Linked DNA regions of Homo sapiens: region 1 is linked to region 2. The links come from fine-mapping of genetic effects on gene expression. A gene starts in region 2. The other region holds a variant in brackets. All regions are shown on one strand. Distances are from middle to middle. Region 1 overlaps TPX2 (TPX2 microtubule nucleation factor). Region 2 holds the start of COX4I2 (cytochrome c oxidase subunit 4I2).

Region 1 (15,988 bases), 110 kb before region 2:
GCCAGGCGCAGTGGCTCACGCCTGTAATCCCAGCACTTTGGGAGGCTGAGGTGGGTGGATCACCTGAGGTCAGGGGTTCAAGACTAGCCTGGCCAACATGGCAAAACACTGTCTCTACTAAAAATACAAAAATTAGTTAGGCATGCTGGTGGGCGCCTGTAATCCCAGCTACTTGGGCGGCTGAGGCAGAACCGCTTGAACAAGAGTGGCGGAGGTTACAGTGAGCTGAGATTGTACCACTGCACTCCAGCCTGGGCAACAGAGCGAGACTACAGCCTCAAAAAAAAAAAAAAAAAAAATGAATTGAGGGAGGGGTGGCAGGAGGGAGGTGAGGGTAATTATAAAAGATCTTGACTGTGATGGTAGACACATAAACCAACACAGGTGATAAAACCACAGAGAACTTAATACACATACAAGTAAAACTGGAGAAATCTGAGTAAAACTGGTAGATTGTATGAATGTCAATATCCTAGCTGTGATATAATCTATCCCTAATGATAGTAGACAAAGTTTTTATGTGGCTGCCATCACTACAGACATATTTGAGCATGGAGTTTTGTTGAACACTGGTTCATCTGAACTTTCCCATAGGTCCCTAAAGCTTAAATCTGCCATTCTGAACTACAAAACAACATATGCTTTGTACTTACAATCCATTCCCCAAATACTGGGCATTTCAATTATTCCCATAATATCATGGATGACAGAATGTCTTGGTGCAGAAAGAAGTTGATATTTTAGTTCTTTTCTTGCAACCCCTTCTATTATTGAAAGGTCTTCAGCACAAAGCAAGCCACTAATCCTTAAAATAGCCAGAGAAAGCAGGCACTTACCAAACCATGAATCTATGTTTTGAGTATCTCCTTCATCATCCAAGGATGAAAAATTGATGAAATCCGAGGGGGCATCATAGGAATAAGAGCTTTTAACTTGTGACATTGTCTCCCACTTAACGCAGAAGAGCAGGTTTTTCCCAGTATTTGTACCACTTTTCTCAGCAGGTCACCTTCTGAGGAAAGAAATGGTTGCACATAAATCTAAGTAAATTCCCATCATTACTTTGGTTTTACTACCACGTTTGTAATTTTGCAAACCACCTAGAATTTACTGAAAATAGCCTTACTTTGTCCAATCAACCTAAACATTAGTTTTTCAGGTAACTTAAAGATACTCCTTGAGGTAGATATGTTTGGAATTAGAAAGAAGTGGGCCAGACACAGTGGCTCACGTCTGTAATCCCAGCATTTTGGGAGGAGGGAGGACCACATGAGACCAGGAGTCCAAGTCCAGCCTACAAAACATAGACAGACCCTGTCTCTAAATAAATTAAAATTATCTCTAAGTATAACAGTTGACCCTGTCTCTAAAAAGATAAAAATTATCTGTAAGTAGTTGACCCTATCTCTAAAAAAATAAAAATTATCTTTAAGTAATCAGCAAATATAAAGAAAAACCAAAAAGAAAAAATTGAAATTAAAAATAAATTTTAGGCCAGGAGCAGTGGCTCACGCCTGTAATCCCAGCACTTCGAGAGGCTGAGGCGGGTGGATCACCTGAGGTCAGGAGTTCAAGATCAGCCCGACCAACATGGCAAAACCTCTTCTGTACTTAAAAAATACAAAAAATTAGCTGGGCATGGTGGCAGGCGCCTGTAATTCTAGCTACTCGGGAGGGTGAGGCAGGAGAATCGCTTGAACCTGGGAGGTGAAAGTTGCAGTGAGTCGAGATCGCGCCATTGCATTCCAGCCTGGGCAAGAAGAGCAAAACTCTGTCTCAAAAAAAATAATAATAAATAAAAATAAAATAAATAAATAAATTTTCTAAATGTTTTTTAAAAGAGGCAAAGTTTGATAAGTATCTACACTGTGCTAGGTGTTTTACATTCACCATGTCATTATTTTCCCTCAATTTACCATTTTCTCATTTCTAGCCTCCTCTAGCCCAATTTATTCTCTCTCTGCCCTGAATAACCCAATTTCTAAAATACACCACTAATTTTTATGCCTACCAACCAAAATCTTATCCATCATTCAAAGTCCAGGTCAAATCTCTATGAACTCTTTCCCAATTTCCACCTATCATACAAAATTGTTGCCTCTCCAAAGCCAATTGTGCTTTGTTTATATCTCCACTGTAACACTTATCATCCAATTTTATATTAACTATGTAAATGTCTCTCCCAGTAGACTCGAAGTTCCTAAAAACAAAGATAGATTTTACTCACTTGTGTATACCTCATCCATCCATCCATCCATCCAACCATCAAGGTGCTTAACACAGTGCATTATACATAGTAAGAGTTCAACACAGTTTTGTCAAATATAAGTTGTCTTTTCTTAGAAATATTCTCAAAAAATACTATTTCTGAGTATAAAGACGACAACTTTGAAATACACGTAAGAGTCACAACATGCAGCATAGGAACAGAAGCAAGGATAAGGGAACAAGTTAAATAGGCCCCTCCCTACTCCTGCGTACGAAGTTTTGCACTCTATCTTGTGGAAACCTGTGAAGGTTTAAAGTCAGCTCCTACTCAAGCCTAATCTAGTTAATAAAATAGCTGAAAGTAATCTGATAAATAGCCTAAAGGCCACACTCAGTGGCCAATAATTTGCCAATGAAACCCAATGAGCCATTTGTCTTTTTTTTTTTTTTGAGACGGAGTCTCACTCTGTCCCCCAGGCTGGAGTGCAGTGGCATGATCCCAGCTCACCACAACCTCTGCCTTCCGGGTTCAAGCAATTCTCCTGCCTCAGTCTCTAGTAGCTGGAATTACAGGCGCCCACAGCCACACCTTGCTAATTTTTTGTTTTCAGTAGAGACGGGATTTCACCATGTTGGCCAGGCTGGTCTCAAACTCCTGACCTCAAGTGATCCACCCACCTCGGCCTCCCAAGTGTGAGCCACCGCGCCCGGCCAGCCATTTGTTTTTATCCAGGGAACGACATGTACTTAAAAGTATCTGTATCTTAGAAGGGAGGTAGATGCCAGTAATCACTTGAATAAATGTTTATTTAAATTAATACCTTTCTAGTGTGGCGCAGTGGCTCATGCCTGTAATCCCAGCACTTTGAGAGGCCAGGGCGGATGGATCACCTGAGGTCAGGAGTTTGAGACCAGCCTGGCCAACATGGTGAAACCCCATCTCTACTAAAAATACAAAAAAGCGGCCGGGCACGGTGGCTCACGCCTGTAATCCCAGCACTTTGGGAGGCCAAGGCGGGTGGATCACGAGGTCAGGAGATCAAAACCATCATGGCTAAAATGGTGAAACCCTGTCTCTACTAAAAATACAAAAAATTAGCCAGGCGCAGTGGTGGGCACCTGTAATCCCAGCTACTCAGGAGGCTGAGGCATAAGAATCCCTTGAACGCAGGCAGCGGAGGTTGCAGTGAGCCAAGATCACGCCACTCTACTCCAGCCTGGGTGACAAGAGCGAGACTCCGGCTCAAAAATAAATAAATAAATAAACCTATAATGCTACACTATTCCAGATGTCTTCTCCCTCATATATATACAAACTATTATTTTTTTAAATGAATCATTGACAGTTTGAATCTGCTTCACATATTATGAATATTCTTGTATGTCAATAAATATAGACATATCAATTAATGGCTGTATCTGTTCCATAATTACTTATCCTTGATTTTCAGCCTTTTTCCAATATTTTCACTTTAAAGATACTGCTAAAGCATCATCCTTGTAGCTAAATTTCTGTACACATCCATAATTCTTCCCTTAAGATAAATCTTAAGAGGTGGAACTGCTGGGTCAAAAGCTCTTGACACATACTGTGAAAATGTCCCTCAGAAGAAAAAAACACCCACTTACATTACCAGGAGTGTGCCAGTTCCCCAAACTCTCCCCAACTCTGGGCACTGCAGCACTCATTTTCTCTAAACTATACCACATAAGCTATCCACTGAGATGAATCATGAGATTAGTTACTCCCAACCTACATAGCCGTTCAGTGGTTTGGCCAGCATTTCACAGCTTCTCTCAGTGGACTAGGGCAATTCAAAATGGACTAGGGGCTGAGAGTGGTGGCTCATGCCTGTAATCCCAGCACTTTGGGAGGACGCGGCGGGAGGATCACTTGAGGTCAGGAATTCGAGAACAGCCTGGCCAACATGGTGAAACTCCATCTCTACTGAAAATACAAAAATTAGCCTGGGGTGGTGGCTGCACCTGTAGTTCCAGCTACTCGGTGAGAATCACTTCAACCCGGGAGGCTGCAGTGAGCCAAGACCGCACCACTGCACTCCAGCCTGGGAGACAGAGCGAGACTCTGTCTCAAAAAATAAAATAAATAAAAATAATGTACTTCTGGTCCTTATAGTGTCTCAGAAACATCTGTTATTGTTGTTGTTTTTGTTTTGTTTTGTTTGAGATGGTGTCTTGCTCTGTCGCCCAGGCTGGAGTGCAGTGGCATGATCTTGGTTCACTGCAACCTCCACCTCCTGGGTTCAAGCGATTCTCTTCCCTCAGCCTCCCAAGTAGCTGGGGTTACAAGCGTGCGCCACCACGCCTGGCTAATTTTTCTATTTTTAGTAGAGATGGGGTTTCACCATGTTGGCCAGGCTGGTCTTGAACTCCTGACCTCAGGTGATCTGCCTGCCTCGGCCACCCAAAGTGCTGGGATTACAGGCATGAGCAACCGCACCCGGCCAGAAACATCTGTTATAACAAATATTTCATTTATACAGTGACATCAATCTAGACCCCAGAGAACATCATCTTCCCATGGTCTCTCCTATGCTCACTGCAGCCAGAATTCCACAAGTATCTTTATAACAATGCTCTAATTGAGGTACTTAGTGTAGAAACATGATATTTTAGAATTGGGAGGAAACTTTGATTAACACCTAACCTTTGCAGTCTATAAGATATTAACTTAAAGCAAAAAGGGGTTCTCCAAGATCACACAACAAAAATCCTAAGGATCATGGTAAAAACAGTTACCAGAGGTGTTCATTACATGCCAGGTGCCATGATATACTAAATATGTATTCTTTCTGATATGCAAAACAATCCTGTAAAGCAGCAATTATTCCCAACCTAGAAGCTGAAGATCAGAAAGATTAAATGACTTGCCCAGTATCACACAGTTACGTAAAAACAGAGCCAGATCTGGACCTGAGGCTCGTGACTTCAGCACAATGTTCTTTCTACATCCTTCTGCCCTCTTACCTTGTGAATTAAAGAAGGGTGTTCATGAAGTTAAGCTATTTGCATAGAAAAGAATACTGTATTTATTTCCAAGTAAATCCATTCTCCATAGTCTTCTGTCTGGAATAGGGGTTCTTTGGTATCCCCAGTCTAAATTTTCCTCTCTCCTCCATTTCTACTTTCATTATTAAGCTTAACTCAATAAGCTTTTTGTCAGTGGTTCACAATAGTGTGTACTTGCTAGGGGCCATAAGCTGTGTGCCCTTGAATGTTTCTCAGTAACATTCAAGGATGACACTCTATATCTTCACACAAAAAGTAGATCTAAGCGGCCAGGCTCAGTGGCTCGCACCTGTAACCTCAGCACTTTGGGAGGCCGAGACAGGTGGATCACAGGGTGAGGAGATTGAGACCATCCTGGCTAACATGGTGAAACCCCGTCTCTACTAAAAATACAAAAAGAATTAGCCAGGCATGGTGGCGGTCACCTATAGTCCTAGCTACTCAGGAGGCTAAGGCAGGAGAATGGTGTGAACCCGGGAGGCAGAGCTTGCAGTGAGCCGAGATCACGCCACCGCATCCAGCCTGGGCAACAGTGCGAGACTCCGTCTCAAAAAAAAAGAAAAAAAAGTAGATGTAGTCCTGAACACAAAGGAACTTAACATCTACATAGACGCTAAGGTCCTATCATACACAATAAATAAGACAGTTTGTTTAAATTATACAGTATGAACTCTAAGTATAGAGAATTAGAAATTAACATGGCTGAAGTCAAGGTACGATTAAATATTTTTCATTGACCATGACCAAAACAGTAGCAAGTACATTAAAATGGAAGTTACCTCCTGATAGCCACTTTCCAAGCTTGGGGTAGCCATGGGACAGTTCTGGCCAATGAGAACTAAGTAAGAATCTGCTGAGGGATTCCTAGGAAAAAATTTTCTTTCCTGAAAACAGCTATAGCCCTTATTCCTGCCCTTTCCCTTTATCCTTCTTCTTGCCTTGAAGGCAAGCTGGAGCTATGGCAGTCATCTGGTATACATGAGTAGATGGCCAAGAGAACAATAAACATAGGGCTTAACATCAATGAGCTAATGACTATTAAAGATCAAATATCAGCTACTATATACCTCTAGACTTCTGGTGTTTTTTACAATTTTCCATGACCTGCTAAAAAGACTTCTTATACTAAAAAAAAATAGGCCAGGCACGGTAGCTCACACCTGTAATCCCAACACTTTGGAAGGCCAAGGCAGGCGGATCACCTGAGGTCAGGAGTTCGAGACCAGCCTCACCAACATGGTGAAACCCTGTCTCTAATAAAAATATAAAAATTAGCCAGGTGTGGTGGCAGGTGCCTGTAATCCCAGCTACTCGGGAGGCTGAGGCAGGAGAATCACTTGAACCCAGGAGGCGAAGGTTGCAGTGAGCTGAGATTGCGCCATTGCACTCCAGCCTGGGTGACAAGAGTGAGACTTCATCTCAGAAAATAATAATAATTATTGTATAAACCATTATAGCCACATTTTCTGTCACCTGTAGTCAAAAGCAATTCCAACTAACAGAAGTCCAGAATGCCCTCTCTGGCATTTACCACATGTATATGACAATAGGCAAGTCACTAATTCTCTGCCTACCTTCTTACCATAATCAAATAAGAAGCTACTTCAAGTGCTATGAAATACACTATTGTAAGGTATTATCACTGCTGATACCTTTCCTCTCCTTGACCACATTTCTATTCAAAGGATTTTTAGTGAAAGATTCCATGGTACTGACAGTGGTTAAAAACCCCTTGCTGCAAGGAGGAAATTTTCCTTTTCTTGTGAACAAATATGCTAGAAGACATGGGAAAATCTTGGATTCCCATGATCTTAATGCCTAACTCAGGTCACTGGGAA[G/C]GCTTCCCAGGCATGAATGTAATGAAGACGACTAAAGCTGGGGGAAGGAAGAGGCAGGAATGTAACATGCAGCAACCCCACTTAGCCTCAAAACCATGATTCCACCAAAGCATGATGCTGAAAACTACCTGGAAAGTGTTCAAATTTAACCCTTCACATCCTTTTTTTCTTTCTTTTTCATCTCTGTTTTTTAAAGAATCTAGCCTGTTGCTCAGGCTAGACTCGAACTCCTGGGCCCAAAGGATCCTCCCTCCTCAACCCCTCCTAAGTAGCTGGGCATGGTGGTGTGTGCCTGTAGTCCCAGCTAATCAGGAGGCTGAGGTGGGAGGATCATTTGAGTCCAGGAGTTTGAGGCCACAGTGACCCACGATTGCACCACTGCACTCTAACGTGGGCAACAGAGTGAGACTCTGTCTCTTAAAAGACAACAACAACAACAACAACAAAATAGTTAAGCAGTATTTATTTCCCTAGATCTATGTTTGCAGCCCAAAAGAAACTGAGCTTTCTCAAATTTTTATTAAATATTCATGACAAGCAATGATTGTCTAATCTCTTGATTTAAGGAAATAATCCTTCCCATTTACGTGGCCTATAAATTGACTATTAACTTACCCAAATGTTACATATTCTCTTTCTAATATTTCTATATAGAACTACCAACCTGGCCAACATGGTGAAACCCCATCTTTCTACTAAAAATACAAAAATTAGCTGAGTTTGGTGGCACATGCCTGTAATCCCAGCTACTCGGGAGGCTGAGGCAGGAGAATCGCTTGAATGCAGGAGGCAGAGGTTGCAGTGAGCCGAGATCATGCCACTGCACTCCAGTGTGAGACTCCGTCTCATAAATAAATAAATAAATAAATAAATAAATAAATAAATAAATAGCCGGGCACGGTGGCTCACACCTGTAATCCCAGCACTTTGGGAGGCCAAGGCGGGCGGATCGCCTGAGGTCAGGAGTTCGAGACCAGCCTCAAAATGGAGAAACCCTGTCTCTACTAAAAATATAAAATTAGCCAGGTGTGGTGGTGCATGCCTGTAATCCCAGCTACTTGGGAGACTGAGGCAGGAGAATTGCTTGAACCTGGGGGGTGGAGGTTGCAGTGAGCCAAGATCGCACCATCGCACTCCAGCCGGGGCAACAAGAGCGAAACTCCGTCTCAAAAAAAAAAAAGAAATCGAGACCATCCTGGCCAACATGGTGAAACCCTGTCTCTACTAAAAACACAAAATTAGCTGGGCATCGTGGCATGCGCCTGTAGTCCCAGCTACTCGGGAGGCAGAGGCAGGAGAATAGCTTGAACCCGGGAGGAGGAGGTTCCAGTGAGCCAAGATCGTGCCACTGCACTCCAGCCTGGCAACAGAGTAAGACTCCATCTCAAAAATATAATAATAATTAATTTAAAAAATTAAAAATAAACAAATAATAAGATTTCTATATAGAACTAAAAATGATTCCTGGGGCATTGACTTAATAAAAGGGTATATAAATTTGAAAAAGTTAAAAATAAAAACAGCTATTAACTTTTTTCTTTTTTTTTGAGACAGAGTTTCACTCTTGTCGCCCAGGCTGGAATGCAGTGGCACAATCTTGGCTCACTGCAACCTCTGGCTCACGGGTTCATGTGATTCTCCTGCCTCAGCCTCCTGAGTAGCTGGGATTACAGGCACCTGCCACCATGCCCAACTAATTTTTTGTATTTTTAGTAGACGGGGTTTCACCATGTTGGCCAGGCTGGTCTTGAACTCCTGACCTCAAGTGATCCACCCGCCTCAGCCTCCCAAACTGCTGGGATTACTAGCGTAAGCCACCGTGCCCGGCCAACAGCTATTACTTAATGAGCACTTATGACATGCCAGACACTGTTGACAGTGTCTTACATGTATTAACTCACTAAATCCTCACAATAATCCTATAAAGTAGGTACTGTTATTATCTTCATTCTATACTGAGGGACTTGAGGCACAGAGAGATTTACTACTTATTCACAGTCATGCAGCTAAGAAGCAGTAAAGCCAGGATTCCAAATGGAATAGACACCGAAGGTGGTGTTCTTATCCACTGCCTATTTATTTAAAAATAGACATTTAAGCTGGGCGCGGTGGCTCACGCCTGTAATCCCAGCACTTTGGGAGGCCGAGGCGGGTGGATCATGAGGTCAAGAGATTGAGACCATCCTGGCTAACACAGTGAAACCCCGTCTCTACTAAAAATACAAAAAAATTAGCCAGGCGTGGTGGTGGATGCCTGTAGTCCCAGCTACTCGGGAGGCTGAGGCAGGAGAATGGCGTGAACCCAGGAGGCGGAGGTTGCAGTGAGCCGAGATCGCGCCACTGCACTCCAGCCTGGGCAACAAAGCAAGACTCTGTCTCAAAAAAAAAAAAAAAAATTCACATTTAAATAGATAAATAACAAATGTCATGGAGCAAGAGATAATAACTTCCAAATACTGTCTACTGTAGGCCAGGCACCTTACCAGACACTTCACATAAATCATCTCGTTTAAACTGCATTAACAATATAGACAATAGATAGATGTCTTTATAAATAAATGCTACCATCACCATTTTATAAACAAGGAAACAAGCTCAGAGAAGTTACACTATTCCAAGATCACCAAACTAATACATAGCAGTGTTGAGTTTTAAAAGAACAAGTCTGCAGGATTCCAAAATCTGGGGTCTCTCTAATGCACAAGTTTTCCTATAAACATTGCTTCAAAAAGGAGGTAGGTAATCAAATCATAAGATCCTGTTCAACAAAGACAAATCCTGCCCTTTATGAAAACTAAGCATCCCTGATATGCTCATAAAGAAAACTTTAGCAAATTACAAATCCTGTTATAAATATATTTGGAAAGCTCTGATCTGAATCTTCCCATAAATTTTTTAAAAAATCCATTGATTCCTCTTTTTTTAAGTATACTTTTCCATATGAAGTTTTTCCTCTATATAAGATGGTGGTTAGTGAAAACCTCAGTGATATTCTAGAGTAAAGAGACTATGAAGAGGGTTCAAGCAGCAGAAGAAAGGCTGTCCTCTGAGGTCTAAGACTACATTTGATTAGTGGGGAACAAACGGCGAGGGGTGCAAACCTAAGTACACTTAATCTTTAGGTGAAATTTTAAAAACAAAATATTATTTTCCTAACATGACCTGTTCTTTAAAAAAGCTTCTTTTAAGCTATATTTTGGTCTAGAATGGCCAACTCAGGAGACCATCCCCTCTCCCTGGAAAAAGAGAATAAATAAATACATATCCATTGAGAAGTCTGACTCTCTTCAATTAAGGCTGATAGGACAAGTACATCAAGAAAACGAAAAGCTAACTACTGGGTAATTTCGGTTTCACGACACTACCTCCCCCAGAAATAATAAATATGAGGATGTGAAATCTTCCAAAATTAAAGTCCACAGGGCCTAGTGGGAAATGGAACAGGCCAGAGCCAAAGGCAGCTGTTTAAATGAGAGAGCCCCAGGCATGGTGGGAACTGGATGCCTTCCTGCGTCCCTTAATCAAGATTGAATTTCTGTCAACAGGTCTCACCAAAAAAAAAAAAAAAAAAAAGGCACATGCGTCAACCACATTCCCCCAAACAAATCAAGTTGCCAAGCAAGAGAATCAGCTTCACATTTCAAAATTATCTGAATCTACCACAGCTTCAGATTCTTGCAAAACTAGAAATATTCTGCATGGAAAAATAGCTATTAATGACCAATATTCCTACAAAGACCCAAGGAAAAAGCCTATCCTGTATGCTATGAACCAATTAGGTTCCTCTAAAAACTGCCTATTCAATGCCATCCATCGTGTCTTATAGCCCATTTTTGTTTCCAAAAAGCGAAGACTAAAACGATAGATAGATAGATAGATAGACAGACAGACAGACAGACAGACAGAGATAGAGATATAAAATCTCGGCCGGGCACAGTGACTTATGCCTGTAATCCCAGTACTTTGGGAGGCCAAGGCAGGCGGATCACGAAGTCAGGAGTTCGAGATCAGCCAGGCCAACATGGTGAAACCCGTCTCTACTAAAAATACAAAAATTAGCGGGCGTGGTGGGTACGTGCCTTTAATCCCAGCTACTCGGGAGGCTGAGGCAGGAAAATAGCTTGAACCCAGGAGGTGGAGGCTGCAGTGAGCCGAGATTGCACCGCTGCACTCCAGCCTGGGACAGAGCGAGACTCCTTCTCAAACAACAACAACAAAAAAAAATCTCTTCCCTCCAAGAACGCACAATTGAATGGGGGAATGCAAACAATTACAATATAGGGCTATCCTTGCTGCAAGAGGGCATTAACAGAGAGCGCTCTGGAAGTGCAGAGAAGGAGAACAGCATAAAAGAGGATCAGAGATGGTTTCCTGATGTAAAAAATACTTAAAAGATACAGACAGACCTGCGGAGTTCTACAAGCTAAGAATGAACGTTGACTTTTTCTAGGGTAAGAGATAAATGGAAGGGGAAGACAAATACAAATTAGGAAGATTGCAGACAAAGCAATGTAACCTGTTCCCACATTCATCTGAAATTAACCTCCCATTGCCTCCCATCTTTCTTCACTCTCAAACCAAAAATAACTAGTCTTGACAAGCTCTATAAATCAAAAGGTGCAGGTTCAGACCGGGTTGGGGAAAGCTGCAAGAGGGTGCATTCTAAGCAGGGTGAAATAGGGGACTACCAGCTCCTGAGCAAAACAAAGACTTTGGTGTGACAGATGCTCTCAAACACCTTGCTATCCAGTCAGTGAGATATGACTTGCCTATTTCTATTAAAGAGAAAGTCATGAGTTAAACTGGTAATATAATAGAATAAACAGAGTAAGACAAGACTTCATTAGAAGTATAGTTAGTTAAGATGGTCCCATCCCAGGCAGTGCCATTTCTCCAGGGACATCCTCTCCTACTTTCACAAGGGATAAGAGATCCTGTTACATTACCACAAGTAAAATAGAGTGGAGTTACTTTCATCTTACCCAGAGAGAAAACACCTACATTTTTTTCTTGTATATAAGGGATTAGCAGCAGTCAGTAAATGGCAACATAATCCAGCATGCAATTTTAACTGTTAATCAAAGTCACAAACTAAGTCTGAAGGAAGTTTAATGGACTTTGTGTTTCCACATTTATGTTTGCTAACTTCTATGTTGAAATTGGATCTGTTTACAGAAACAGATCTATGAAGCTTCCAAAATTGGGTCAATTTAAAATCCAATGACAATCCCTCACTGTCCAACACTCAGAAGTCAGCACAGGACACATGGACACTTGTTCTAATTCATCACTGTCCAGAAACTTCAAGCAAATATATTTCCTATCATTTCTCTCCCAAACTTGTATGTTTCATATTGCCCTTTTTTAAGGATTACAAACTCAGTTTTGCTATAATTTATCCATAGAACTCAACAAACCATAATCCACCTATGACTAATAGGACCTAGATGGAAATCAATGATGCTGTTTACTACTAGGACAGATAATGACAGAGAGCTTTGTAAAATACTAAAAGGAAATCTTAGTAGAAACCCAAAGTAATCTGATATTCCAATAGTATGAAGCTGAAAAAGTTTGTAATGGTTGACAGTGTGGCTGCAGATTACAATCCTAGTCAAATAGCAGTCATTTCATTTTATAGAGATTTATTCCCTTCAAAAGGTATCTGGTTTGGGGAATAACACACAAACACTCAAACCCAAGAACCTAATAAAAGTGTTTATTAGATGGCTCATGCCTGTAATCCCAGCACTCTGGGAGGCCAAGGCAGGTGGATCACCTGAGGTCAGGAGTTCAAGACCAGCCTGGCCAATATGGCAAAACCCCATCTCTAATAAAAATACAAAAATTAGCCAGGTGTGGTGGCGTGCCTGTAATCCTAGCTACTCGGGAGGCTGAGGCAGGAGAATCACTTGAACCAGGGAGGCAGAGGTTGCAGTAAGCTGAGATTGTGCCACTGTATTCCAGCCTGGTTGACAGAGTGAGACTCTGTCTCCAAAAAAAAAAAAAAAAAAGTGTTTACCTATGGATGGTGAGAGTGAAGAAGTAACAAGGCTGGAGGAAGATTTTAAACCATGAAGCTTTTTATATTCTTTTGATTTTTGCACCATGCAAATATATTACCTATTTTAAGTTATACATTTATGCCTATGTGAATATATACTGTTTTAGGTAAATCAGCATAATCTTCCTACAAGGCAATTTGGTGTTACATGTCAAAAGTTTTTAAAAATATGTTTTGTTTGTTTGTTTTTTGAGATGGAGTCTCGCTGTTGCCTAGGCTGCAGTAGTGCAATGGCGCGATCTCGGCTCACTGCAACCTCCACCTCCCAGGTTCAAGTGATTCTTCCACCTCAGCCTCCCGAGTAAGTGGGATTACAGGCACCCGTCATCATGCCTGGCTAATTTGTGTATTTTTAGTAGAGACAGGGTTTCACCATGTTAGCCAGGCTGGTCTTGAACTCCTGACCTCAGGTGATCTGCCCGCCTCAGCCTCCTCAGAGTGCTGGGATTACAGGCGTGAGCCACCGCGCCCGGCCAAAAATACGCATTCTTTTAGACCAGCAATTTCACTGGTAAAAGTAATATAAAGAACCAAATAATGGAATACCATATAGCCATTAAAATTATGTTGTAGAAAAATTTGGCCAGGTACAGTGGCATGCACCTGTAGTTTCAGCAACTCGAGAGGCTAAGGCAGGAAGATCACTTGAGCCCAGGAGATGGAGGCTGCAGTGAGCTGTGATCACGCCACTGAAGTGCACACTCCAGCCTGGGTGACAGAGCAAGACCCTGTCTCAAAAAAAACAAAAAAGAAAAGAGAAGAAAATTTATTAATGACACGGGAAAATATTCATAGCCTGATTATTAAGTTAAAAAAATTAGAGGCCGGGCGTGGTGGCTCAAGCCTCAATCCCAGCACTTTGGGAGGCCGAGGTGGGCAGATCATGAGGTCAGGAGTTTGAGACCAGCCTGGCCAATATGGTGAAACCGTCTCTACTAAAAACACAAAAATAGCCGGGTGTGGTTGCGGGTGCCTGTAATCCCAGCTACTCGGGAGGCTGAGGCAGGAGAATTGCTTGAACCTGGGAGGCGGAGGTTGCATTGAGCCAGAGATCGCGCCATTGCACTCCAACCCGGGCGACAGAGTGAGACTCCGACTCAAAAAAAAAAAAAAAAAAAAGTTAAAAAAATTAACAAAAGTTTTTAGTGTATGATTTTTTTAAAAATGAAATACAGTTGGCTGTCCGTATCTATGAGTTCCATATCTGTGGATTCAATCAACTGCAGATCAAAAATATTTGGGGGAAAAAAAACTGCAAGGCCAGGCACGGTGGCTCACGCCTGTAATCCTAGCACTTTGGGAGGCAGAGGCGGGCAGATCACCTGAAGTCAGGAGTTCGAGACCAGCCTGACCAACATGGAGAAACCCCATCTCTGTTAAAAATACAAAATTAGCCAGGTGTGGCATGCCTGTAGTCCCAGCTACTCGGGAGGCTGAGACAGGAGAATCGCCTGAACCTGGGAGGCGGAGGTTACGGTAAGCTGAGATTGCACCATTGCACTCCAGCCTGGGCAACAAGAGCGAAACTCTGCCTCAAAAAAAAAAAAAAAAACTGCATCTGTACTGCATATGTACAGACTTTTTTTGAGACAGGGTCTCTTTCTGCCACCCAGGTTGGAGTGCAGTGGTGCCCTCAGCTCACCGTAACCTCAAACTCCTTGGCTTAAGTGACCCTTCACCTTGGCCCCCCAAGTAGCTGGGACTACAAGTAGGTGCCACCACGCCCGGTTAAATTTTTTTATGTTTTATTTTTTTTGTAGAGACACGGTGCCACTATGTTGCCCAGGCTGGTCGCGAACTCCTGGCCTCAAGCAATCCTCCTATTTAAGTCTCCCAAAGTGGTGGGATTACAGGCCTGAGCCACTGTACCCAGCCTAGACTTTTTTTCTTGTCATTATTCCCTAAACAATACAGTATAACAACTATTTACATAGCATTTACATTGTATTAAGTATTATAAGTAATCTAGAGATAATTTAAAGTATGTGGGAGTATGTACATAAGCTATATGCAAATACTACACATCATTTTATACCAGGGCTTGAGCATCTGAGAATTTTGTTTTGTTTGTTTTGAGACAGAGTCTTGCTGGCTGGAGTGCAGTGATGAGATCTTGGCTCACTTGCAGCCTCTGCCTCCCGGGTTCAAGGGATTCTCCTGCCTCAGTCTCCCAAGTAGCTGAGATTACAGATGCGCACCACCACACCCAGCTAATTTTTGTATTTTTAGTAGAGATGGGGTTTTGCCATGTTGGCCAGCCGGTTTCAAACTCTTGACCTCAGGTGATCCGCCTGCCTCAGCCTCCCAAAGTGCTGGGATTACAGACATAAGCCACAGTAACCGGCCGCATATGAGAATTTTGATATCCTGGGAAGGTCTTAGAACCAATTCCCCATGGATATCAAGGAATGACTATATAGACATAGAAAAAAATTATAAAGAAATCTATCAAAAGGCTAACCATGGTTTATCTGAGAGGTGGGATAGTGGGTGATTTTATTTTCTTTTTGCTTTTCATAATAAATAAATTTCCTTCCAAAATATGTGTTACTTTATAAAATTACATTAGTCATTTAAACACTTATGAAGCTGATATATTAATGTTCCTTATTCCTATGGTCACTGCCTTACCTGTGGTTTAATCAGTCTATCAGGCCTACAGGTCTGACTCAAAGTTGCAATCTTCTCTTTCACCCCTTTTCTGAAATCTTGAAGTCTGGCAAATATGTATCAAGAACCTGGAAGAAGCAGAAAAGTGATGAAACAGGTTCCAAGTTCTCTGTAGTAAAAAAGGGTTAACAGGCCGGGAGCAGTGGCTCACGCCTATAATCCCAGCACTTTGGGAGGC
Region 2 (15,988 bases):
GGGAGGGGCCGCCAGAGGCTCCCAGCCAGGGCGGAGCCTCAGGGAGACAGCTGGGGATGCAAGTCACTTCTTCCACTGCTTCTTCTCATAGTCCCAGCGGGAGGCCAGGCCCTGCACAGGATTCACCTTCATGTCCAGCATGCGCTGCAGCTGCTGGGCTTTCCGCTCGTCCGTCAAGGTGATCGGCTTTGGAGGAAATACTGCAGGGAGTACATGGGGTGGATCAGGATCCTGCCAGTCTTCCTACACCAGCCAGGGTCTCCAGCCACCCTGTAGCCTCCCAGCCACTCGCAAGGCTGACGGTACAAGATACTCCAGGGTTGAAGTATCTTGCACTGAGGAGCTCACTCCACCCTGTCTAGCCCCGCACCCCAGACTTTCTCCTAGAGCATCGTCCCAGGCACCTCTGGGTTCTGACCCCAGCTTTGCCTTAGACCCCAAGGACTGTGGGAGCTGGGCCAAGGTCCTTCACAACTCAGTCACCTCACCTACCTCTGTGGTCTGTGGTAATAAGATCACTGATTTGAAGACTGCCTGAATCCAAATCCTGGCTCTACCACTCCCTTGCCCTGCGACCTTCAACAAGTCACTTCATCTCTCTGAGCCTCAGTTTCCTTACCTGTCAAAAGAGGTCCTATCCACTAGGATTGTGGGGACTGAGTATTTCCAAAGCTGTTGGCACAATGTTAGACAAATATTAAGCACCTGATACATGTTACCTACTATAATTATATAATTACTGAGTTTGTTCCCACTTGCTGGGCAGGGTCCAGGATGAAATAATTCCTTTTACTTTCTAAGAGGGTTGAAAGTAGGAAGTAGGTAAGAGTGTTCACTTTAAAAATATGGGGACAGGCCACCGGGCACAGTGGCTCATGCCTGTAATCCCAGCACTTTGGGAGGACGAGGCAGGCGGATCACTTGAGGTCAGGAGTTTGAGACCAGCCTGGCCAACATGGCGAAACCCTGTCTCTACTAAAAATACAAAAATTAGCCGGGCGTGGTGGCACACTCTTGTAGTCCCAGCTACTCGGGAGGCTGAGGCAGGGGAATCATTTGAACTGGGGAGGCAGAAGTTCAGTATATATATACACTGAAAAACACACAGTTCATACACAACAATCAGTTACAACACCATTCATGACTATGAGCCAAACACTGGCCTACAGCCCTCTCTCATTAAAATCCTCTTAAGTACCCTGAGATGGAACATTACTATTCCCATTTTAGAGATGACGAAACTGAGGCCCAGAGAGGTAAAGTTCCTGCATTCAAACCTAGACAGCCATGCTCTGTCCTTCACCCTACACCTCTTCAGAAATTTTCAGCTCTTCAGATGAGTGCCAGCATGGTTCCTTTAAGAAACTGTCTGGTGGCCGTGACCACAAGGGCATGGCCCAGGACTGCAGCCAGATGAGGTGTTGCCACTCACCGTAGACCCGCTGCCACCAAATCACCAGAGCTGCGAATCCAATGAAGAAGAAGACACAACCCATCACTGTCTTCCACTCATTGGAGCGACGGTTCATCTCCGCAAAGGTCTCATTGAACTGGAGCCGGTACACTGGAGGCAGTTGGGTGTGGGGAAGGGGCCTCAGGTGCGTCCACTCTAAGTGATCCCGGCTTCCCCCTCCCTGCAGCAGATGCTGTTCATTCAGCAAATTCTTACTGAGCACGTACTATATGCACAGCATGACCAGGAACAGGTGACAGCAGTGAATGAGCCAGATGAAAATCCCTGCCCTTGTGGAGTTTAGAGGGGGAGACAATGGCAAATGCTTCAGGCAAACAGTTGGCTGGCCAGGGAAGGTGTCTCAGAGGAGGTGACATTGGAGCTGAGGTTTGAAAAATCAATGGGAGAAAGTTGGTGAAAACTGGAAGGAAGTGCAAAAACCCTGAAGCAGGAAGTGGGTAGGGAAAGTGTGAAGTGAGGACCACTGTAGCTGGAGTGAAATGAGCAAAAGAGAGAGAATTTAGCAAATGAGAGGCTGGCTCTCTCAAATGAGAGGCAGAGCCGGTTCACACAGGACCTTGTTAGAATCCATGGAGAAGAGTTTGGATTTCATTCTAACAGAATTAGGGAGGGGGCCAGGCTTGGTGGCTCATGCCTGTAATCCTAGAATTTTGGGAGACCAAGACGGGTGGATTGCTTCAGTCCAAGAGTTCAAGACCATCCTAGGCAATAAAGCGAGACCCTGTCTCTAGAAAAAATTTAAAAATTAGCCAGGTAAGTCCGGGCGCAGTGGCTCACGCCTGTAATCCCAGCACTTTGGGAGGCCGAGGTGGTGGATCACGAGGTCAGGAGATCGAGACCATCCTGGCTAACACAGTGAAACCCCGTCTCTACTAAAAATACAAAAATTAGCCAGGAGTGGTGGCGGGCACCTGTAGTCCCAGCTACTCGAGAGGCTGAGGCAGGAGAATGGCGTGAACCCGGGAGGCGGAGGTTGCAGTGAGCCGAGATCATGCCACTGCACTCCAGCCTAGGCGACAGAGCGAGACTCTGTCTCAAAAAAAAAAAAAAAAAAAAAAAAAATTACCCTACGTGTGTAATCCTTTCTCAGTACATTAAATAAATATGAAAATAAATATCTAAAGGAAAATCAAAGCTGGCAGCAGAATTCCTTGGGAAAAGGGAACTGTCTTAGGTTTTGGGAAGATACTTGGGTGGGCGGTTCAGGCTGAGACAATGAAATCAACCAGTGGAGGCCACTCAGTGTGGCTGTGGTAGAGCCATGCATAGACACAGGCCATGCACTCCAGTGCTGCCACGCCTGCCTGCCCTGGAAGAGGTCTGACAAGACTCAAGGCATTTGGCCTGGCATGATGGCTCATGCCTGTAATCCCAGTGCTTTGGGAGGCCGAGGCAGGAGAATTGCTTGAGCCCAGGAGTTCAAGACCAGCCTGAGCAACCATAGTGAGACTGCTCTGTCTCTACAGAAATATAAATAAATAAATAAATAGCCGGGCATGGTAGCTCACCCCTGTAATCCCAGCACTTTGGGAGGCTGAGGTGGGTGGATCATGAGATCAGGAGTTCGAGACCAGTCTGGCCAACATGGTGAAACCCTGTCTCTACAAAAAAAATACAAAAAAAAAAATAGCCAGGTGTGGTGGCGCCCGCCTGTAGTCCCAGCTACTCAGGAGGCCAAAGTGGGAGGATCGCTTGAGCCCAGGAGGCAGAGATTTCAGTGAGCCGAGATGGGGCCACTGCACTCCAGCCTGGGTGACAGAGACCCTGTCTCAAAGAAAAGGAAAAAAAAAAAGTTGTTTGAGCTGTGAGGTTACACTGAAACTCCCCAAGCATCCCACCAAACCTTCATTGTAGCTAATGTGGTGTAGCAGCTAAGGGTGAAACCCCTGGTGCCTGTCTATGTGGTTTCAAATCTTGCCTCCACCACTCTCTAGCTGTGCAACCACTGTAAGTGACTGCACGCCACTGAGCCTCAGTCTCTCAAATGTGAGCTAACGAGAGCAACCTAACGCCACAGCGGTGCCTGCTACATGTAAGCGTGCAGGACATATTAGGGATGGTGCTCATTATCATCTTGCTTGGGGAATGTCCATCATTTCTTTCTCTCTCTCTCTTTTTTTTTTTTTTTTTCAGACAGGGTCTCACTTTGTTACCCAGGCTGGAGTGCAATGCCGTAGCACAATCACAGCTCACTCTAGCCTCAGCTCCCCTGGGCTCAAGTGATCCTCCTGCCTCAGCCTCCCAAATAGCTGGGACGACAGGCATGTGCCACCATGCTCAGATAAAGAGTGTCAATTTCTCTTTTTTTTTTAAATTTTATTATTATTATACTTTAAGTTTTAGGGTACATGTGGTTTGTTACATATGTATACATGTGCCATGTTGGTGTGCTACACCCATTAACTCATCATTTAGAATTAGGTATATCTCCTAATGCTATTCCTCCCCTCTCCCCCCAAGAGTGTCAATTTCTGAAATGGATGAAGAAAAAACCAAGATGTGTGTGTGTGTGTGTGTGTGTGTGTGTGTGTGTGTGTGTAGAAAGAGAGAGAGAGAGAAGGGGTAAAGGTGCTGAGAGAGGGCTGGAAATGCAAGCTCACAGGCAGGAACGGAGCCTGGCTGGCTCACAGCTGCATTCCCAGTGCATGGTATTGTAGTAGGTGCCAAATAAGATGTTGACTGAATGAATGAATGTGAGAAGCATGAACCTTTCCCCACTAGGAATCCCTTGAAATCTTGGAGGTCAGGCTGAGTGTTCCCATTCATGGAATGAAAATAAGGTGCTCCAAATTTCAAAGGGTCAGCTCAGGGATGCTCTGGTGGACATGACAAGGGACCACACATCCCTCCAGCCTCCCAGGGTCAGAGGGCTCCTCCCCAACCGCCTCACCTGCCTCTCTCTGTCCCATCTCCCCCACATCACTCAATTCCAGGGCCCTCCACAGTCTCCTGCTCTGACACCCTTCCCCATGCAGTTCCCACTCCCTGGCAGTGCCCTCCTCTTCACCCTTAAAGGCCAGCTGGAATGTGCCCTCCTCTGGGAGGTCCACCAAGATTTCATCTCACAGTCCTTGAACACACCTCACCCTAGCCACATGTTCTGTATTACAATTATTGGAGTCTGTATTGGTTTTCCCCACGGGACCGGGGGCACCATGGGGGCAGGAACTATCCAGGTGATTCACCTCATGTCCCCAGCATTGCCTAGCATCAGGCTATGCACAAACAGGTGAGTGAATAAAGAAACGAACAAAGGCATGAACTTCACCCCTCAGGTGTTTGGAGGTTTCTGGCTGTCTTGGGGGCCTCTCTCTGCCCTCTGATCCCTGACAGGCCATTCTTTCCAAAGTCAGCCCCCAACCCACTCTCTCCAGCCAGCCCCACCCTGACACTTACAGGCCACCTTTTCGGCGTGGGTCAGCTGGGTCCAGCTTCCCTTCTCCTTCTCCTTCAGGGCCTGCTCCTCAGCGTTGAGTTCTGTGCAGAAGGGCTCTTCTGGCATGGGGTAGTAGCGCTGGGCATAGCAGTTGGTGTAGGGGGACATCTTCCCCCCACCACGGGCTGCAGACACAATGGAGGGAGCTGAGTCCAGGCTGCCCTTGGGACACCCTATCTCTAACTATATTAATAAAGAAGGTGGCCGGGCTTGGTGGCTCATGCCTGTAATCCTAGCATTTTGGGAGGCTGAGGCGGGTGGATCACGAGGTCAGGAGTTCGAGACCAGCCTGGCCAAGACAGTAAAACCTCTCCTCTACTAAAAATACAAAAATTAGCCGGGCGCAGTGGTGGGCACCTATAATCCCAGCTACTCGGGAGGCTGAGTCAGGAGAATTGTTTGAACCCAGGAGGCGGAGGTTGCAGTGAGCCGACATTGCGCCACTGAACACTCTAGCCTGAGCGACAGAGCAAGACTCTATCTCAAAAAAAAAAAAAAAGGAGGTTTATAATAGCTTGGGGTACTAGTAAGGGCTCAATAAATGTTATCTTTGTTATTCTCCATGGGTCAGCAAGGCCCTTCTGCTATCTGGCTGAAGTCTCTCCTACTTTAGGTCTCTTTCTTCTTACTAGCATTGAAACTAGGGTCTGGAAAGGAGGAATCAGGGTCCAAGGTTCTGTCAGCATCCTCCACCTCAGAACAAAAGGTCTAGGGGCCTGAGGCTTGGGGGCTGGCTCCTAAGGAAGCTTGGAATGGAGATGACCACTGTCTGCTCACCCCGCGCACTCCATTTCCTGGAGAAACTTGACCTTGGACCAAGGAGTGGGATCATGGGAACATGGGAAGTGTGGTAGGAACAGGCCCAGGGTGGCATGGAAGGGCAAAGGGGGCAGCCTGCAGAGGGGACCCCTGCCCCTATCTCTGGAGTTAGGCAGGGAGGAAGGAGTCCAGGTCTCACTGGTGCCTTCTGAGCTGTGCATCCCTCGTCTTCCACCTCCACCTTTCCTCAGCACCAAGCTCCAGGCAGCTCTGGGGAGCATCTGGGGGCGTGAAGGTATAGATGAGTTCTGCCCCCACATCACCCTCTGCCCCCAAACCGCAGGGCCAGATGGAAAAATCCTTTTCCACTGGTATGGTAGTGGTAGGGGTGTCCCAGTGTTTCAAGGTCACCCTCATGCCCTTGACCCTTCTAATTTTGTCTGATATCCCCAGCGGGGGGCCAATGGGGGTCCTAGACCTTTGAAGCCCCTTTTTGGGACCTCAATTCACCATCTGAGAAGTGGGAGGAGGCCTAAGTCTTGGGCCAGGGTCTGAAGAGTTTGAGGCTGAGGGCTTGGGTTCTGGTGCCAGCCCCAGCTCAGTCTGGCCAGATTGGAGAACCCCGCTCACTTGTTTGCTCCCCAGAGGAAGCTGGGTGGGGTCCAGGTGGAGAGGGAGCAGTTCTTGAGTCTCTCTTCCCTGCAGGGGCCAGAGGCCCCTGCACCGGCAGAACAGACAGACGGTCTGGCCCCCACCCCTTCCCCCCTAATTGGCTGCCTACGTGCACACAGGCCTGCTCTGCTGGATCTGGTTGGGGTGGGGACTGGGCTTAGCCAGTCTGGCTGAGCCCAGTCTCCCACCCCCAGGGAAGACTCAGGGTTTGGCATCCATGGTGGTGGGGAGGGGCTTTAGAGGATGGGGACTTAACTGGGTCAGAGGGAGGGAGACACACATCTGGGGAAAAGAAGGGGAGTCCCACATCTAGGGAGAGAGAGGGGCACCCAACAAATAGAGTGAGGGAGGGGGCACACTACAGGTGATAAGTGGGAGGGGGCGGCCCACACTTCTGGAAAAGAGGGGCTCCGGCCAGTGATTATGATTAGTGGGTGGGAGAGCTCCACATATCAAGAGAGGGAGGATGTAATCTATATTTGGGGAAAGAGATGGCACACATATGCAGACTCCCCAGGAGTCTTCAACTCTAACCTACAAGAAGCCCCCCAACCCTCTAAGACAGGGACCACTGGGGCGTGACCCAGCGGCGAAGGCAGGAGACCGAGCCGCGCCCCTGACCCGCGCGGGCTTGGGTGGCGGGGTCCTCCCCCAACTCACTCACCTCGCGGGCTCGGCAGTGGGAGCGCGACCTGGGTCTGCCCAGCGAGCAACTGAGAACCCGCTGCGGAGGGACCTGAGTGCGGGCGCCCGCCCCCGGCCCGCCCCACAGCCTTTCTCGGGGCCGCCCCAGCGTGGGAACGTCCTGCTTCGGCAGGGCGTGGGAGCGCACAGCCTGCGTCCCTGGGGGCACCCCGGCCCACAGATTGGGGGGAGGCACTGCAGAGCGCCTCCTGCATCAGTGTCCCTACCGGGGTCCTGCCTCTGGAGACCCTCTGCAGACAGTAGTCCCAAGAACAGGGTCTCCCTGCCTCCTCCACACCTCCCCTCCTTGCTGTTTCTCCCACCTGGGATGTTCTCTTCAGGCCTTTGCAGACGCAAACCTTCCAGCCAGGCCCAATGCCTCCTACTCCAGAAGCATCTTTTAGGCCAGCAGTGGCTCACGCCTGTAATCCTAGCACTTTGGGAGGCCGAGGCGGGAGGATCACCTGAGGTCAGGAGTTTGAGACCAGCCTGCCCAGCATGGCGAAACACCTTCTCTATTAAAAATAGAAAAATTGGGCGGGCGCGGTGGCTCATGCCTGTAATCTCAGCGCTTTGGGAGGCCAAGGCAGGCAAATCACGAGGTCAGGAGTTTGAGACAGCTTAGCCAACATGGTGAAACCCCATCTTTACTAAGAATACAAAAATTAGCTGGGCGTGGTGGCACGCACCTGTAATCCCAGCTACTCAGGAGGCTGAGGCAGGAGAATCGCTTGAACCCGGGAGGCGGAGGTTGCGGTGAGTCGAGATCCGGCTACTGCACTCTAGCCTGGGCAGCAGAGCTAGACTCCATCTCAAAAAAAAAAAAAAAAAAAAAAAAAGTTAGCAGGGCGTGGTGGCGCGCACCTATAGTCCCAGCTTCACAGAGGGCTGAGGCAGGAGAATCACTTGAACCTGGGAAGCGGCTGTTGCAGTGAGCCGAGATCGGGCCACTGCACTCCAGCCTGGGCAACAGAACAAGACTCTGTCTCAGAAAAAAAGAAAAAGAAAAAGAAAAAAAAAATTCCCAGCACTTTGGGAGGCCAAGGGGGGCAGATCATGAGGTCAGGAGATGGAGACCATCCTGGCTAACACAGCGAAACCCCGTCTCTACTAAAAATGCAAACAAAATTAGCCAGGCATGGTGGCAGGCGCCTGTGGTCCCAGCTACTCAGGAGGCTGAGGCAGGAGAATGGCTTGAACCCGCAAGGCAGAGGTTGCGGTGAGCCAAGATCATGCCACTGCACTCGAGCCTAGTGACAGAGCGAGACTCCATCTCAAAAAAAAAAAAAAAAAAAATAGACAAGGCTCAGGCACATTTATTCAAGAATTACTTATAAAACTGGGCGTGGTGGCTCATGCCTGCAATCCCAGCACTCTGGGAGGCGGAGGCGAGCAGATCACCTAACGTCAAGAGTTTGAGACCACCCTGGCCAACGTGGTGAAATCCCGTCTCTACTAAAAATACAAAAATTAGCCGAGTGTGGCAGGGGACACCTATAATTCCAGCTACTCGGGAGGCTGAGGCTAGATAATCGCTTGAACCTGGGAGGCAGACGTTGCAGTGAGCCAAGATCGCACCACTGCACTCCAGCCTGGGTGGTAGAGTGAGACTCCTCAAAAAAAAAAAAAAAAAAAAAAAAACTTAAAAAAAACTTATAAAGACCTGTTTCAGCTGGCATTTATTGCATACTTGTTTACCAGGATAAATGTTGGGGGCTATAGAGCCAAAAAAAACCAGACATAGTTCCTGCCCCCACAGGGCTTACAATTCTGTTCTAGGCAGAGGAAAAGGCCTGTGCAAAGACCCAGAGGCAGGAAAACACAGCATGTTCAAAAAACAGAAGAGACAGGCCAGGTGCAGTGGCTCACGCTGTAATCCCAGCACTTTGGGAGGTCAAGGCAGGTGGATCACAAGATCAGGAGATCGAGACCAGCCTGGCTAACACGGTGAAACCCCATCTCTACCAAAAATACAAAAAATTAGCCAGGCGTGGTGGCATGCACCTGTAGTCCCAGCTACTTGGGAGGCTGAGGCAGGAGAATCGCTTGAACCCGGGAGGTGGAGGTTGCAGTGAGCCAAGATTGCACCATTGCACTCCAGCCTGGGCGACAGAACGAGACTCCGTCTCAAAAAAAAAAAAAAAAACAACTGAACAGAAGAGACAGCCAGGTGCGGTGGCTCATGCCTATAATCCCAGCACTTTGGGAGGCCGAGGCGAATGGATCACCTGAGGTCGGGAGTTTGAGACCAGCCTGGCCAACATGGTGAAACCCCGTCTCTACTAAAAATAAAAAAATTGGCCAGGTGTGGTGGTGCACATCTGTAATCCCAGCTACTCGGGAGGCTGAGGCAGGAGAATCGCTTGAATCTGGGAGGCGGAGGTTGCAGTGAGCCAAGATCCCACCGTTGCACTCCAGCCTGGGCAACAAGAGCGAAACTCCATCTCAAAGCAACAACAAAAACAATAACAAAAGAAGAGAGGTCATCTTGGCCAGAGTGTCATGGTTAAAGGGGAGGCTGGATGGAGGGAGAGGTGGGCTGGACCACCGAGAAGGACCTGTAGGCGGTAGTGAGGAGCTTGGATTTTATTTAAAGAAGGTGATTAAGCTGGCATGGTGGCACACCCCTGTAGTCCCAGGTGCTCAGGAGGCTGAGGCAGGAGGTGGAGGTTGCAGTAAACTGAGATTGCACCACTGCACTCCAACCTGGGCAACAGAATGAGACCCTGTCTCAATAAATAAATAAATAAATAAAATAAAATGAAGGTGGGAGGCAACCAAAGTTAAGAAGAGGAGTGATGTGTTCAAATGAAGCAGAGCACAAGTTCAGTAAATGTGTCCCGGGACTGTTAGTATACGGATGGTGGATGAATGGGAGAGGGCTGGGGGTCCCCTCGGTGGCCTGGAGACCAGAGCTTTCCAGGTCTCCTGGCTCTAGGTCCATGGGGTATGCCCAGCCCCCATGCCTTCCATCAGGGTTCCTATACCCTAGTGAGTCCACAGGGGCCTGCTAAAGACAGTTTCTAAAGGCTGGCCAGGCATGGTGGCTCATGCCTGTAATCTCAGCACTTTGGGGGGCCAAGGTGGGCAGATCACTGGAGGTCAGAAGTTCGAGATTAGCCTGGCCAACATGAAGAAAACCTGTCTCTACTAAAAATACAAAAATTAGCCAAGTGTCGTGGCACATACCTGTAGTACCAGCTACTAGGGAGGCTGAGGCGGAGGTTGCAGTGACCCGAGATCGCACCACTGCACTCCAGCCTGGGCGACACAGCGAGACTCTGTCTCAATAAATAAATAAATAAATAAATAAATAAAGGGAGGGGGCTTAGTCCTGGGGGCAGATGAGCCTAGAAGGCGAGGGGCTCAAGGGAAGGTGTTAGAGGGACCCTAGAGTGCACATCACCTCCATTCTAGACGCTGCCAGAGACAAAACTTTGAGAAGGCAGCTTGGGAGTCTTCCCGAGTTCCAAGAGTCCAGCTCCCAGAACTGACCATGTTGGGCCCAGCGCCCTCTGCTGGTCACTCTGGGAGCTGCTCCTCCCCTTCCCCAACCAAGGTAATTCCAAACGTGAGAGACCCCCAAAAGGATCACCTTGGCCAGGCACCGTGGTTCATGCCTGTACTCCCAGAACTTTGGGAGACCAAGGCGGGTGGATCATCTGACGTCAGGAGCTCGAGACCAGCCTGGCCAACATGGCGAAACCCCGTCTCTAGTAAAAAGACAAAAATTAGCTGGGCGTGGTGGGGGGGGCACTTGTAATCTCAGCTACTTGGGAGGCTGAGGCAGGAGAATCGCTTGAACCCGCGAGGCGGAGGTTGCAGTGAGCCGAAGTCGCACCACTGCACTGCAGCCTGGGCCACAGAGTGAGACTCCCTTTCCAAAAAAAAAAAAAAAAAAAAAGGACCACCCCTTACCTCGGTCACTGAGCAGGATGTTCTACAGAACAGCCCTATGGACAGAGGACAGGGGAAGACACTCCTTCTTTAAGAACCTGGAGGAGAGCATGCCTTGTCTTTTTTTTTTTTTTTTTTTAAGCTTTGTAGAGACAGGGTCTTGTTATGTTGCCCAGGTTAGTCTTGAACTCCTGAGCTCAAGGGATCCTCCTGCCTTGGTCTCCCAAAGAGCTGGGATTATAGGCGTGAACCACTGCGCCAGGCGGAAGGTCATGAGTCTTGCCAGACCTTTTTCAGGGTGGCTGGGAGGGCGGTGGCTGCACTGGAGTGAGTGGCCTGTGTCTATGCATGGCTCTACTACAGCCACTCTGGCCAAGCGGCACCATTTCTGGGCCTCAGTTTCCCCCATCTCCTCAGTTTCACAGGGTCTTCCAAGGGAAGGCATTTGGGAAAGGCGATCCTCTGTTCTTCCCTGCCCTCTTCCGCCCCCGCCTCTGTGGGAACATCAGGCTCCAGAAGTTGAGTGATGCTGTGATAAGGAACATCTGTGGGGGAAGCCCAGCCCCGGACTGAGGGCCATGGGGTGGAGGCCGGCCCTGAGTAGCTCACGGTGAATATAGCCTGCAGGACAACTGCGGAGCCTCCTTTCAAGGTCCTGAACCTGGGAAGAGACGGACTGTCCCTTAAGGCAGGCCACTCGGGGTCCCAGAGCCGAGGAATAAGGGTCTTCTCCTGGAACCGCGGGGGGTCCAAGGGTGGAAGGGACTCCGGACACGGCATTCAGGCCACTTGTCGTGACAGGCCCGACATGCTGAGAGCTCTGGGATAGGCTGAGACCTGCCAGCAGGAGGGATGGCAGCTCACGCTCACTTGATCAGCTCCAGGGAGCCCCCAGATTCTGCCCAGATGCAAAGACCTGAGCCATGGCCTCAGCATCCCCCCACCAGCCAGGCTCTAGGTATCACACAGGACCCACCTCCGGCCTGCCAGCCCAGAGGGGATACTGTGGAAGAGCTAGGCCTCACGCAGGACCCTAAGGTGAAAATAGGAAGAGGAGCTGGACAAAGCGTCACAGACCCAGACCCCCAGCCCTTCAGGAGGCCCGGGAGCCCCTTGAACCCAGGGAGGAGGTCTAGTACAGGAGGAGCGGGGAGAGGCGAGAGTGGGCAGAGCTAACCACAAGGAGCGGGGCCAGGCGACAGCAAGGGAACCGGGCGCCGAGGGGGCAGAGCCAGCGAGCCGATGGGCGAGGTCAGTGAGCCGAGGGCCCTGGCCAGGAGCGGAGAGCAAGGCCCACCCAGCTCACCTGTGGGAGCGGAGGCTCTGCGGAGCTATGGGAATCACCGAACGCTGAGGGTGTCTCGGCAGCAGCTCAGGCTCGGAGGACGTCGCGGGAAGACCCGCAGCTCTGGTGGACCGTCCAGCAAGCGCTTCTAAAACCGTGGACAGACACGCCAGGCCAGAACCAACACTGAGGGCTGGGCACGGTGGCTCGCCCCTGTAATCCTAGCACTTTGGGAAGCTGAGGTGGGAGGATTGCTTGAGATCAGTAGTTCAAGACCAGCCTGGGCAAAATGGTGAGACCTTGTCTCTATATAAAAAAAAAAAAAAAAAAAAATCAAAAAATTAGCAGGATGTGGTGGCGCACACCTGCAGTCCCAACTAAGGAGGCTGAGGTGGGAGGAGTGCTTGAACCTGGGAGGTCGAGGCTGCAGTGAGCTGTGATTGCACCACTACATTCCAGCCTGGGTGACAGAGCAAGATCCTGTCTCAAAAAAACAAACTGACGTTGAGCTGGGACTGCCATAGGAGTGGATGGCCACTAATGGCAGGTTTCCTGGCCTGCCGCAGAACCCATAGCATGATCGGGGTAGATGAATGCCCTTGGCTAGATTTCACCGGGACAGGACAGGACAGGTGGCCTAGAGATGGAAACTTCCTGGGGCAGGTCAGATCTCTTCATACCATTGCCGTCTCCTCCTCCCTACCAGGGCAGACACACTAGAGGAGTGGGGCTGAGGGAGGCGTCCAACCTGGCAAAGGGGCTGAGGTGGTGAGATCTGGGAGTGCAGGTGTCACATCAGCCCTAGGGGTAGGCACTAGTGCCTTCACATCCTGGAGGCCAGGGCCTCTGTCTTCTCTGAGACACAATTGGCTCCTGCACATGGGCATGGGTATTTGGCCCCCAGATGTGGGGACAGCCTATGTGGGGACAGCCTCATGGTATCCTTGAGCCTTTCTTGGCACCGCTGGCTTCCCAATAAACTCCTTAGCCTGACGTTCAAGGTCCCCACTACCAAACCTTCCAAATACAGCTTCTTCATCAGCCTCTCTTGCTCTCCCACCATGCCCCAGCCACACTGGGCTTCAGTTCCTAGAACACACCCACCTTGCCCATGACAGGGCCTTTGTAATTGCTCTTCCCTCTGCTGAAATGCTCTTCTCTCAAGGGCAAGTCTTATTCCCACTCACCTGTTCCATCTGAGAGAGCTCTACCGGAGCAATACACCCGGCCTCTCACCCACAGACCAAAGCTATGCTTTACAAACTAGTTTATCAGGAATTGTGGCAAATTGTATTTTCAAAGAAGATAGCCTATCAATATCTCCAATTCGACATGCTCATTGTACAATTATGACCTTGACACTTGAGTGTGGGATCTATGTCCCCCTTCCTTCAGCCTGGATGTACCTTTGTGACAGCATTAAACAGCAGAATATGGTGAAAGTTGCTATGTGACTTCTAGATCATAAAAATGCCATGTGGGCCCGGGTGGGGTGGCTCACGCCTGTAATCCCAGCACTTTGGGAGGCTGAGGTGGGTGGATTGTGAGGTCAGGAGTTCAAGACCAGCCTGGCCAAAATGGTGAAACCCCATCTCTGCTAAAAATACAAAAAAATAGGCTCAACGCCGTGGCTCATGCCTGTAATCCCAGCACTTTGGGAGGCCGAGGCAGGTGGATAACCTGAGATCAGGAGTTCGAGACCAGGCTGACCAACATGATGAAACCCTGTCTCTGCTAAAAATACAAAAATTAGCCGGGCGTGGTGGTGGGCGCCTGTAACCCCAACTACTCAGGAACCTGAGGCAGGAGAATCGCTTGAACCCGGGAGGCGGAGGTTGCAGTGAGCTGAGATCGCACCACTGCACTGCAGCCTGGGTAACAAGCGAGACTCTGTCTCAAAAAAAAAAAAAAAAAAAAAAAAAAATTACCCAGGCATGGTGACAGGCGCCTGTAATCCCAGCTACTCGGGAGGCTGAGGCAGAGAATTACTTGAACCCGGGAGGCAGAGGTTGCAGTGAGCTGAGATTGTGCCACTGCACTCCAGCCTGGGCAACAGAACACAACTCCATCTCAAAAAAAGAAGAAGAAAAAAGCCACGTGGTCTGTTAGGACATTCTCCCTGGGAACCCAGCCATCATGCTATGAGGGAGCCAAGCCAGCCCAGGTGGAGAGACCATATGGAGAAGTCATGTGTAGATGTGCTGGCTCAAGGCCCTGCTGAGGTGCCAGCCTACAGCCAGCATCCATTTCCAGACATGTACAACTCCAGATGATTCCAGCCCCAGCCATCAAGGACCTCATAGCCATTGAGTCTTTCCAGCTGAGGCCCCAGACTTCATGGGGCAGAGACAAGTCATCCCTGCTGTGCCCTCTCTGACCTCCTGGCCCACAGAAACCATGAGCATCAGTTATTTTGCACACTAAACACCAGGTGGTTTGTAGGTGGTTTGTCATGCAGGAACAGTGAATGGAACAGTAAGGAAGTGTTATTTTGATTTCAATATACCTGATTCCTCATCTGCTCTCTGTTGTGTCAGAACTTGGGCAAAGAAGAAGTTGTTATGTATTGACATCCAAACCCTAACCACTGTCCTTCAAATTGCAGCTTAAATGTCATCTCAGAGAGCCCTTCCCTAAGACCCCTATGCAGTTTAGATTTCTTTTCTTTTTTTTTTTTTAAACAGGGTCTCATATGGTCACCCAGACTGGAGTGCTATGGTGGGATCTTGACTCACTGCAGCCTCAGCCTCCTGGATTCAAGCAATCTTCCTGCCTCAGGCCCTCCAAGTAGCTGGGACTACAGGTGTGTGCCACCATCCCTGGCAAAAATTTTTGTATTTCTTGTAGAGATGAAGTTTTGCCATGTTGCCCAGGCTGGTCTTGAACTCCTGAACTCAAGCTACCTGCCTGCCTCGGCCTCCCAAAGTGCTAGGCCTCCAGGCGTGAGTCACTGCACCTGGCTAGATTTATTTTCCTCATAGTATTTTTCATTATCCAAAATTATGCACAGGCTTGCCTGGCCTGCATCTTCTGCACACCAAGCCTGTTCACTCAGTCCCTCCACCTCTACATGGGGATGAAGTAGGATCTGGCTGTTACACTGATACTCACTACTTAATTTTTATTGGTGCAATTGCTTTGTTTTTGTTTTGTTTTGTTTTTTTGAGACAGAGTTTCACTGTTTTGCCCAGGCTGGAGTAAAGTGGTGTGATCTCGGTTCACTGCAACCTCTGCCTCCTGGGTTCAAGTGATTCTCCTGCCTCAGCCTCCCAAGTATTTGGGATTACAGGCACATGCCACCACATCTGCCTAATTTTTTTTTTTTTTTCTTTTTTGTATTTTTAGTAGAGACAGTGTTTCTCCATGTTGGCCAGGCTGGTCTTGAACTTCTGACCTCAGGTGATCCACCCGCCTCAGCCTCCAAAAGTGCTAGGATTACAGGCATGAGCCACCGCACTCGGCCTATTGGTGCAATTGTAAATCATACTTTTGAAAAATTTCAAGCCAAGCGTGGTAGTGCGTGCCTGTAACTACTCAGGAGGCTGAGGTGGGAGGATTGCTTGAACCCAGGAGTTTGAGCCCAGCCTGGATAATATAGCAAGACCCTGTCTCTAAAAAATAAAAAAAAAAATCAATTTCCAATTGTTCATTGATATTATATAGAAATGCGGCTGGACACAGTGGATCACTCCTATAATTCCAGCACTTTGGGAGGCTGAGGTAGGCAGTTCACTTGAGGTCAGGAGTTCGAGACCAGCCTGGCCAACATGGCAAAACCCCA

Evidence for each region.
Region 1: its variant is fine-mapped to the expression of COX4I2 in tibial nerve (GTEx, PIP above 0.99).

Annotation. Positions count from the first base shown.
Region 1 is chr20:31,742,431-31,758,418 of GRCh38, reverse strand. It overlaps TPX2 (TPX2 microtubule nucleation factor), which reads right to left. Exons shown (of 18, transcript NM_012112.5): 2 at 15,772-15,878; 3 at 837-1,012. The coding sequence starts at 942. Among named protein-coding and RNA genes, the nearest start is that of TPX2, 11 kb to the right of the region's middle. The variant G/C (reference allele first, on the strand shown) is at 7,077.
Region 2 is chr20:31,628,980-31,644,967 of GRCh38, reverse strand. It overlaps COX4I2 (cytochrome c oxidase subunit 4I2), which reads right to left and starts at 7,056. Exons shown (of 5, transcript NM_032609.3): 1 at 7,006-7,056; 2 at 5,869-5,950; 3 at 4,871-5,035; 4 at 1,433-1,564; 5 at 1-200. The coding sequence starts at 5,950. The coding sequence ends at 64. RefSeq lists silencers at 6,996-7,135, 14,573-14,773 and enhancers at 10,264-10,764, 10,765-11,265.